Regions from separate parts of the Homo sapiens genome. Here region 2 is linked to region 1. The links come from fine-mapping of genetic effects on gene expression. A gene starts in region 1. The other region holds a variant in brackets. All regions are shown on one strand. Distances are between the middles of the regions. Region 1 holds the start of PIGU (phosphatidylinositol glycan anchor biosynthesis class U). Region 2 overlaps ITCH (itchy E3 ubiquitin protein ligase).

What was found. PIP is the estimated chance that this variant, and not a neighbour inherited with it, causes the effect.
Region 2: its variant is the best candidate, but not a certain one, in a credible set for the expression of PIGU in whole blood (TOPMed, PIP 0.55).

The regions. Positions count from the first base shown.
Region 1 is chr20:34,674,796-34,680,173 of GRCh38, forward strand. It overlaps PIGU (phosphatidylinositol glycan anchor biosynthesis class U), which reads right to left and starts at 2,297. Exons shown (of 12, transcript NM_080476.5): 1 at 2,161-2,297. The coding sequence starts at 2,290. RefSeq lists enhancers at 1,765-2,651, 2,652-3,537 and silencers at 1,917-2,016, 2,257-2,366.
Region 2 is chr20:34,422,413-34,427,790 of GRCh38, forward strand. ITCH (itchy E3 ubiquitin protein ligase) reads left to right here. Exons shown (of 25, transcript NM_031483.7): 7 at 2,068-2,113. Among named protein-coding and RNA genes, the nearest start is that of MIR644A, 41 kb to the right of the region's middle. The variant TA/T (reference allele first, on the strand shown) is at 2,201.

The sequences.
Region 1 (5,378 bases):
TAGGGTTGGTGGTACATGCCTGTAGTCCCAGCTACCAACTACTTGGGAGGCTGAGGAGGGAGGATGTCCTGAGCCCGAGAGGTCAAGGCTGCAGTGACCCATTATCACTGCACTCCAGCCTGAGTGTCAGAGTGAGACCCTGTCTCTTGAAGAAAAAAAAAAAAAAAAAGAGGCCAGGCATGGCGGCTCACACCTGTAATCCCAGCACTTTGGGAGGCCGAGGAAGGCAGATCACCTGAGGTCGGGAGTTCAAGACCAGCCTGACCAACATGGAGAACCCCTGTCTCTACTAAAAATACAAAATTAGCCAGGCATGGTGGTGCATGCCTGTAATCCCAGCTGCCCAGGAGGCTGAGGCAGAAGAATTGCTTGAACCCAGGGGGCGGAGGTTATGGTGAGCCGAGATCGCACCATTGCACTCCAGCTAGGGCAATGAGAGTGAAACTCCATCTCAAAAAAAAAAAAAAAAAAAAAGAGAGAGAGAGAAAATGTGGAAAAACCGGATATAAACAGGTAATTATGAGATAAGAAATGCTCTTAGTAGGGTGTAGAGGAAGAAGGGCCTAATACTGCCTCAGGTTTTCAGTTATCCAGAAGAAAACAGGAACCAAATGGCTTCGATTCATTTCAACAGAAAAATAATACGCAGAGGTAACAAATCCAAGCTCTTACAATCTCAGACATGAATTATTACTATCTTTATTACCATTCCCCAACTAGGAAACCTGGGCAAATTAACTTCTCTAAATTTCAGTTCCCTCATCTGTAAAAGGGGGAAAATAACACCATCTATCACATAGAAATAAATGTGAGGACTAAATGAGAAAAGGTATATGTTACCATTTTTAGAAACCTTAACTCTATTCATAAAACACCCATTCATTATGCCGTTCCCCATACCAACATTCTATGGGATAACATCAAAACGTTAGCCTTGGCCAGGTGCCATGGCTCACGCCTGAAATCCCAGCACTTTGGGAGGCCAAGTGAGACTGCTTGAGTCCAGGAGTTCCAGACCAGCCTGGGCAACATAGAAAGACCCTGTCTCTAAACAAAAAACAAAAACAAAAACAAAAAAACTTTAGCATTTAAAGGACACAAAGGGGACTTCTGGGGTGCTGATACTGTTTCTTGAACTAGGTGCTGGCTACATGAGTGAATACAGTTTTTAAAAATTCATTGAACTCTACACTTACTTAATATGCATTGTATGTATACTGTACTTCAGTAAAAAAAAAAAAAAAAAAGTTGTTTGTTTTTTTTTAATCATCAAACTCTGGCCTAAACCTAGCTTCCACCCCATTACTCCCCTGCTTTGGACATTTCACATCCTTGAACGTTTCTTCATCCTATTTACTTTCTGCTACCTGGAACTCTCCTTTTCTCTAATCTCCCTTTCAAAACCCTACATCCTTCAAGAGTCAGCTCAAATCCCACATTCTGGAAAACTGGAAAGGTAGGGGATAGTTTATTCAGGGTCAGAATACTAAGGAAGGAACTGGGTGGACACATAAAGTATACTTTTCATGAATTATTATAACGATTTGTCTCCCTCACTAGCCTGTGCAGCTACTTCAGGCCAACTTCGCTTTCTCGCTGTAGGCGTTAGTATAAAACAATGTTCGGTGAAGAACTTAGTAAGGAACAGTAACAAAAATTGCCCTGCAAGTCCCAGACTGAGAAGAGACGTCTAAAGCACACGCACACTCTCCTCGCTTAAGCAAAATTGGTCCCCTCATCCCGGACCCCCTCACACATAACCTTTTATCCCAGGGAGCACCCCTGGCGATCCCGCCCCAAATCCCAAACTCCTCTGCAAGCCGCGCTCCACAAGCACCTCCTCCTCTTATTCCAACCCTTCCCACAGACCACACTCCTCGGCTCAGGACACTGAATGGGACACGCCCCCTCAGATCCCCACCACTAGGTGGTCCGGCCCCCAGGGCCCAAACCTCACGACACTGTCCCCACGCCCCGGTCCCCACGCCCCCTCCCCTCACCAGCCCCGCCCTCAGGCCCCGCCCTCTCCAAGAACCCCACGAGACAGTCAGTTAGTTCTCTAGGAACCGCGCGCTGGCGGTCACTGCCCCCGCCTCCCATTCACAGAGGCCGCGGGAGGGCAGGTGGGGCCTGACAGTCTGCTCGAGCCAGTGGCCTCACCTCTCTTCCAAGAGCTCAGTGGGGACACCACCTCCACCCGCTCGGAAATGAACTCGGCCAGACTGGAGCGGAACAAGGCCGCCCGCACTGTCACAGCCACCACCAGCACCAGGACCAAGGGAGCCGCCATGATAACTGGGGCGGGCGCGCGGGCGGGGAGGGAAGGCGAGGCGGAGGAGCCTCGCGCGCTGTGCGCCACGCTCTGTAGTTCCGCGGGTGGGCGCGCGCTGCCGCTGGCGCCGGAGAGGCCAGACGTGGGGACTACGGCTCCCAGAAAGCCTTGCGGCGAGGCGGGCCGGAGCGACGGAAAGCGGGCGCCTCAAGCTGCGTATGCAGAAGGTGGGGCGAAACCTTCTACGATCGCAGGTGTTTTGTGAAGCCGCGCCGCTATAGCGGGGCTGAAACGCTGCTGAAAGTAGAAGCGGAAGTAGTCGCCTTCCTGGGATTGTGAGAGACTTTTAAACAGATGTTAAATTCACTCTTGCGTGTATGTTTTCAATGCCAAAATGTTTATTTTTATTTTTATTTTTATTTTTTTTGAGACGGAGTCTCGCTCTGTCGTCCGGCTGGAGTGCAGTGGCGCGATCTTGGCTCACTGCAACTTCCGCCTCCTGGGTAGCTGGGATGACAGGCGCCCACCACCACGCGCGGCTATTTTTTTTTTTTTTTTTTTTTTGTATTTTTAGTAGAGATGGGGTTTCACCATGTTGGCCAGGTTGGTCTCGAACTCCTGACCTCAGGTGATCCGCCCGCCTCGGCTTCCCAAAATGCTGGGATTACAGGCGTGAGCCACCGCACCCTGCCCAAAATGTTTATGTTTTTTGTTTTTGAGACAGGGTCTCAGTGCCGTCGCCCAGGCTGGAGTGCAGTGGCGCAATCTCAGCTCACTGCAGCCTGGACCTCCCGGGCTCCAGAGTAGCTGGGACCACAGGTGCGCGCCACCACACCCGGCTAAGTTTTTGTACTTTTAGTAGAGACGGGGTTTCGCCATGTTGCCCAGGCTGGTACCTTTTATGTTTTTAAAGAGTGTTAAATGTGTATTTTTTAAAAAATTTATTCTGGCAGTTGTTTGTTAAACGCCAACTATTTTCCAGGCACTATGTTAGGTTCTACAGATGCGTTTTGGAGTAGTAGACTGATTTATTAGCTAGTTCAACAAGTCGCTTAACCCTTGTGTGCTGAAAAATGTGCTGATTATAGGCTAACTAGGGACAGTTGAGGAAGGCTTAGAAATTTTTTTTTTGTTTTGGAAACGGAGTTTCGCTCTTATTGCCCGGGTTGGAGTGCAATGGCGCGATCTCAGCTCACTGCAACCTCCGACTCCCAGGTTCAAGCGATTCTCCTGCCTCAGCCTCCCGAGTAGCTGGGATTACATGCATGCGCCATCACGCCCGGCTAATTTTTTGTAATTTTAGTAGAGACAGGGTTTCTCTATGTTGGTCAGGCTGGTCTCGAACTCCAGACTTCAGGCGATCCACCTGCCTGCCTCGGCCTCCCAAAGTGCTGGGATTACAGGCTTGTGTCATCGTGCCTGGCCGGAAGGCTTAGAAATTTTGCCAGTCGCTTTTAAACACAGGCATTTTTGAAAATTAAGACATATAAACCTACAGTTAAATAACTTATATTGAAAACAACGGAATACATATTCAACACGTCACTTTCTAATTATTTTACTACACTTTTTTTTATATGTGCTTTTGAGATTATTTACCACCGCTGTATCAGTACAGCAAATACTATCTCTTTCTCTTCCCAAATGGTGGTGTTCAGTTTCCTCAGGTTGATAGATTGAAAATCCCTCCCAATGCGAGTGTTTACACCACAGGAATCAGCAAACACTACAAATCAGGGGTTTGGGGTTTGGAGAGCCCATTGATAAGCATTAAGCAGCACACTTCATTAATTAATGTATAGTAAGTGCTTAAATATTAGCAATAATAATATTAAATGTGCAAGGAAATTTCATATTTGTGAAGAAAAGGAAACAGGCTGGACGCAGTGGCTCACGCCTGTAATCCCAGCACTTTGGAAGGCCGAAGCAGCCGGATCACTTGAGGTCAGGAGTTTGAAACCAGCCTGCCCAACATGGTGAAACCTCGTCTCTATTAAAATTACAAAAATTAGCCAGGCATGGTGGCCTGTGCCTGCAGTCCCAGCTACTCAGGAGGCTGAGGCAAGAGAATCACTTGAACCTGGGAGGCGGAGGCTACAGCGAGCCAAGATAGCGCCATTGCACTCCAGCCTGGGCGACAGAGCCAGACTCTGTCTCAAAAAAAGAAAGAGAGAGAAGAAAGAAAACGAAACAGTGTATGACTGAGAATAACTGCTGGTGTAATAATAAGGGTGGTAACACTAGACAAGGTGATCAGGGAAGACTCTAGAAAGAGGTGATATTTGAGCTGAGACCTAAAGGATGAGAAATTAATCAGAGCCTCCAAGCAGAAGGAACGGACTGAGTGGGGAAAGAGCAAGGTATGTTTGAGGATCAGAAAGAAAACAAGTATGGCTCAAGTGGAGAGAATAGAAGAAGCTGTGGATGGAGAGACGGGGGGCAATCAGGTAGGGACCTATTGGCCATGCTTGAGAATTTGGGCTTTATTCAAAGTGCAATCCATATGCCATTGGAGAATTTTAAACCAGAAATGATGTGAACAGGTGTACATTTTTCAAACATCTCTATATTCCCACAAGCCCTCTATTGGGTGTTGGGGAATATTGCAGTGACAAAATGGCACCATCTGCCTTTGCCCTTATGTAACTTGGAAAGCAGTTGAAGAGATAAAATAGTTAAAGAATAACATAAGTAAAATCACAAACCATAACTCCAGCCTGGGCGACAGAGCAAGACTCCGTCTCAAAAAAAAAAAAAAAAAATCACAAACCTTAATGAGAGAAAGAAAAGGGGGAGTGGGCCAGGCGCAGTGGCTCACGCCTGTAATCTCAGCACTTTGAGAGGCCATGGCGGGAGGATTGCTTGAGCCCAGGAGTTTGAGACCAGCCTGGGCAACATGGTGAAACCTGTCTCTACAGAAAACATAAGAATTACCCAGGCATGGTGGCGCATGCCTGTAGTCTCAGCTACTGGGAAGGCTGAGGTGGGAGAATCACTTGAGCCTGGGAGGTTGAAGCTGCAGCGAGCCAAGATCACGCCGCTGCTCTCAGGCCTGTACGACAAAGCAAGACCTTGCCTCAAAAAAAAAAAAAAAGAAAAAAGAAAA
Region 2 (5,378 bases), 250 kb before region 1:
AATAGACACATTTTAGTAACTTATGCTGGATATTTTGTTGTGGTTTTCTGATTTCATTTATGTCCCATTCATAAGCCATTTTAGGGGACTATATTCCATATTAAAACATTCTTAAACTGAAATTTACCCTTTATAGCCAAAATGTATTTCATTGTACCATTTTTTTTTTACCACATTAACATCTTTATTGAGTTGTATTTTATACAACATAAAATTTACCCATTTCAAGTGTACAGCTTAATGAATTTTAGTAACTTAAGTGAGGGATTCAACTATCACTGTAATTTAGGTTTAAAACATTTTTATCCCCTCAGTAAAATCCCTCTTGCCTGTTTACAGGAGCTTCCCTTCTCACTGTCAGCCACAGGCAACCACCACTAATCTGTATTTTTTTTTTTTTGAGACGGAGTTTCACTCTGTCGCCCAGGGTGGAGTGCAGTGGTGTGATCTCTGCTCACTGCAACCTCTGCCTCCCAGGTTCAAGTGATTCTCTTGCCTCAGACTCCTGAGTGGTTGGGACTACAGGCGCCCGCCACCACACTCAGCTAATTTTTGTATTTTTAGTAGAGATGAAGTTTCGCCATGTTGGCCAGGCTGGTCTCAAGTTCCTGACCTCAGGCAATCTGCCCACCTTGGCCTCCCAAAGTGCTGGGATTACAGGTGTGAGCCACCACGCCCGGCCTCTATTTTTTATCTCTAAAAATTCGTCTTTTTCTGGACATTTGTATAAATGGAATCATAAAATATCTGTTTTTTGTGTCTGGCTTCTTTCACTTAGCATAATGTTTTTGAGGTTCATCCATGATATAGCGTGTTTCATTAGTTTGTTCTCTTTTATTACCAAATAGTAATAATTCCATTGTATAGACAACATTTTATTCACATACTATTTAAAGATAATATATTTCTAGACTGGATGAGACATTTACCAACTTTGCTAAGTATGGTATAGTATAGTGGTGACTCAGTATTTTTTAAATTAATCCACCAATTATGCTTTTTTGTAATATGGTAATAATTTCCCTGTTTAAACTATGATTCTATCCAGGGCCTATTGTTCCTTTACTAAATGGACCTAGGTGGTCGAACTTGAGTTCTTGTTTCTACATGTGATCATTTTTCTTTCTCTTTCCCTGTTTACCATTTGTTTTGCTTCTTTAAATGTACCTACCTTTAGCACCCTCCCTCCAACACTTTTCTTTTTTTTGAGACGGGAGTTTTGCTCTTGTTGCCCAGACTGGAGTGCAATGGCGCGATCTTGGCTCACTGAAATTTCTGCCTCCCGGGTTCTAGCGATTCTCCTGCCTCAGCCTCCCAAGTAGCTGGGATTGCAGGTGCCTGCCACCACTCTTGGCTAATTTTTGTATTTTTAGTAGAGACAGGTTTTACCATGTAGGCCAGGCTGGTCTTGAACTCCTGACCTGAGGTGATTCGCCCACCTTGGCCTCCCAAAATGCTGGGATTACAGGTGTAAGCTGTTGCACCTGGCTCCTCCAACACTGTTACAGTAAAAAGATCTGGACTGAATCCTAAGGATATTTTCCATCAATAAAGCAAGAAGAAAATAAGAATATTGTGGCATTAATTTTTGGCAACTTGGATTCCCATTTGTGGCTTTCCTAATTTTTAAGCTGTTTTCCAGGCCCCTGCAATAAGAGAGACGTTATGGGTTTTTCTGTTTCTGGAATCGATTTTATTCTGCTGGCGATCAGCACTTTTTTATGAGGTATTTGGGATACAAAGATGGTTAAAACACTAGGTTTAAATTAGAGTTAGACATATTTCAAAAAAAAGGCAGGAATAGTAGTGCATGAGTAATATACCTTTAGTAATTAACATCCCGTATCCATTAATTATTAAGCATTTGCACAAAATTTTGGCAGACTTTTTTTGCAGTCATGAAAATCACATTTTTCCTTTTAAAGTCATGTTGGAATTTAAGTTATAGTATGTTCTTTATTACAAAGATTTAATAAAAGGCTTTGCTTACATGGCATGTTTAGAAAAGAAAAAACATGAAAACTACTCTCTTGAAACTCATTTTCTGTTTAAACTTTGATGTTAAAGGTGCTTCTCAGAATGATGATGGCTCCAGATCCAAGGATGAAACAAGGTAAGCATTCACTGATTGCTTACCACAGAATGCGGAGAGATAGATTTCCTAAATATTCATTTTAGTGTAAACTTCAGGTTCATGATA[TA/T]AGAATAAATGAGTGTCAGAAAGAATTCAGAACTCAAGAAGGGAAATATTTGCAAAAGATTGAAGACTCTTAGCTTATCGGATTAGAGCTATCTGGAGTGGGCTAGGGATAACCAAATTGTTGATACTTCTTCAGCTTGTAGAAAATAAATATACTGGCACCTTTTCAGAGGCAGGGTGTTCTAAACTCCAGAGCCATCATTGGGCTGTTAAGTTTCTTTTCCAGAAAAACTGAGATAGGAGCTTTACACATATGTGAAGGTCACCACTAGCTATGGTATCATCTGGGCCTTCATTAGAAGGGGCAGAGCTTTGTACCAGCTGTTTGCTGTTAGCCCAGGTTTAGCACTTTCATGTGCCTATCTGCGTTCAAGTTTGGACCTAAATGTGGGGAAAAGAAAGAAAGATCAGTTTGTTACTGTGTCTATGTAGAAAAGGAAGACGTAAGAAACTCCATTTTGATCTGTACTAAGAAAAATTGTTCTGCTTTGAGATGCTGTTAATCTGTAACTTTAGCCCCAACCCTGTGCTCACAGAAACATGTGCTGTATTGATTCAAGGTTTAATGGATTTAGGTCTGTGCAGAATGTGCCTTGTTAACAATATGTTTGCAGGCAGTATGCCTGGTAAAAGTCATCGCCATTCTCCATTCTCGATTAACCACGGACACAATGCACTGCAGAAAGCCGCAGGGACCTCTGCCCAAGAAAGCCTGGGTATTGTCCAAGGTTTCCCCCCACTGAGACAGCCTGAGATATGGCCTCGTGGGAAAGGAAAAACCTTACATCCTCCAGCCCAACACCTGTGAAGGGTCTGTGCTGAGGAGGAGTAGTGAAAGAGGGAGGCCTCTTTGCAGTTGAGATAAGAGGAAGGTTTCTATCTCCTGCTCGTCCCTGGGAATGGAATGTCGGGGTGTAAAGCCAACCATTCGTTCTATTCTGAGATAGGAGAAAACCGCCCCGTGGCTGGAGGTGAGATATGCTGGCAGCAATACTGCTCTGTTACTCTTTGCTACAGTGAGATGTTTGTGTAAAGTGAAACATAAATCTAGCCTCTGTGCACATCCAGACATAGTACCTTTCCTTGAACGTATTCATGATACAGATTCCTTTGCTCACATTTTTCCCTGCTGACCTTCTCCCCACCATCACCCTGTTGCCCTGCCACACTCCCCTCGCCAAGATAGTAAAAATAGTGATCAATAAATACTAAGGGAAATCAGAGACCAGCGCTGGTGTGGGTCCTCACACGTTGAGCGCCGGTCTCCTGGGCCCACTGTTCTTTCTCTGTACTTTGTGTCTGTGTCTTATTTCTTTTCTCAGTCTCTCGTCTCCACCTGACGAGAAATACCCACAGGTATGGAGGGGCAGGCCCCCTTCATCTAAAAGGTGTTGAAAGCCTTGGACTATGTGAATTAACTTAGACTGCTTATTGGTTATCCTGGAAATCGGTAACAGCAGATAAAATTAGGAAAGGAGATGATTCTGCTTTTAAAGTAGTGAGTGGCATGTCTTAACCACAGAGTGCAGTGATTATAAAATTCCATTTGATTCTTTGTTTTTCTCAAATTGCATAAGCAGTGAGTAGGAAGAAGATGATGAACCACAGGAGGAGTAGTCAGAAGGGGAGAAGAACGAGAAAAGTAATGTCACAGACTGTGAGGGAAAATTATCCACAAAGATGGGATGTTACAGTGTCAGATGCTGCAGAGGAGGATAGGTGAAGAAAGTAGAACAAAATACTGATGGTTGTTGAAGCTGTGCTGTTAGGTACATGGGAGTTTATTGTATTAGTCTATCTGCATTTGTCATCTATGGGTTGTTTTTTTTTTGTTTTGTTTTTTTGTTTTTTTAGATGGAGATTCACTCTTTCACCCAGGCTGAAGTGCAGTGGCGCGATCTCAGCTCACTGCAACCTCCATCTCCCGGGTTCAAGCGATTCTCTTGCCTTAGCCTCTTGTGTAGCTGGGACTACTCAAGACAGGCATACACCACCATGCCCGGCTGTTTGTATTTTTAGTAAGAGATGGGGTTTTGCCATATTGGCCAGGCTGGTCTTGAACTCCTGATCTCAAGTGATCTGCCTGCCTTAGCCTCCCAAAGTGCTGGGATTATAGGCATAAGCTGCCATGCCTGGCCGATAGATATATGGAAGTTTTTTGGTTTTTTTTTTTGTTTTTTGAGGTGTTGTCTCACTCTGTCACCCAGGCTGGAGTGCAGTGACACAATTTTGGCTCTCTACAACCTCCACCTCACAGGTTCAAGCAATTCTCCTGGCTCAGCCTCCCGAGTAGCTGGGATTACAGGCACCCGCCACGATGCCCAGCTAATTTTTTGTATTTTTAGTAGAGACGGGGTTTCACCATGTTGGCCACTATGGTCTCATTCTTCTGACTTCGTGATCTGCCTGCCTCAGCCTTCCAAAGTGCTGGGATTACAGGCATGAGCCACTGCACCTGGCCAATATATGAAGGTTTTCATAATAAAAAGTTAAAGACAACTCATCAAGATCTTTAGGAAAATCAAAGTTTATAAAGCTGTTGTGTCTTACCTAATAGGTATCTGCTTTCACATTCTTATGATGAAGAATCATCTATACTAATCTCACGAGATGTAGAATATTAAGGAGCAGTAACTTCTTGCCTAGAAAATAGCAGATACTTTTATTCTTTACTGTGATTAAAATCAATGGGGCCGGTCATGGTAGCTCACACCTGTAATCCCAGCATTTTGGGAGGCCAAGACAGGAGGATCACTTGAGCCTAGGAGTTTGAGACCAGCCTGGGCAATTGAGTGAGACCTCATCTCTACAGAAAACAAAACAAAACAGAAAAATTAAAATTAAAAAACGGTAGTTAGGCCTGGTGGCACGTGCCTGTAGTCCCAGCTGTTGGAGTGGGGAGGGTGCCCAAAGTGGGAGGATCACTTGAGCTGGGGAGATCAGTGAGCTGAGATCGTGCCACTGTACTCAGAGTGATGACAGTTAGACCCTGTGTCAAAAAAAAAGAAAAGCAATAGGACAGGTTTAAAAAATTACATAAATATCTGTAGACTGAATACTATTATGTCTCTTTTGTCTTTTTTTAGTATTATTATATTTAGTAGAAGATTTCTTGAATTCCTGAAAGTTCCCGCATAAAATGTTTTAGTATTTCAGTTTGCTTTGGTCATTTACCTCT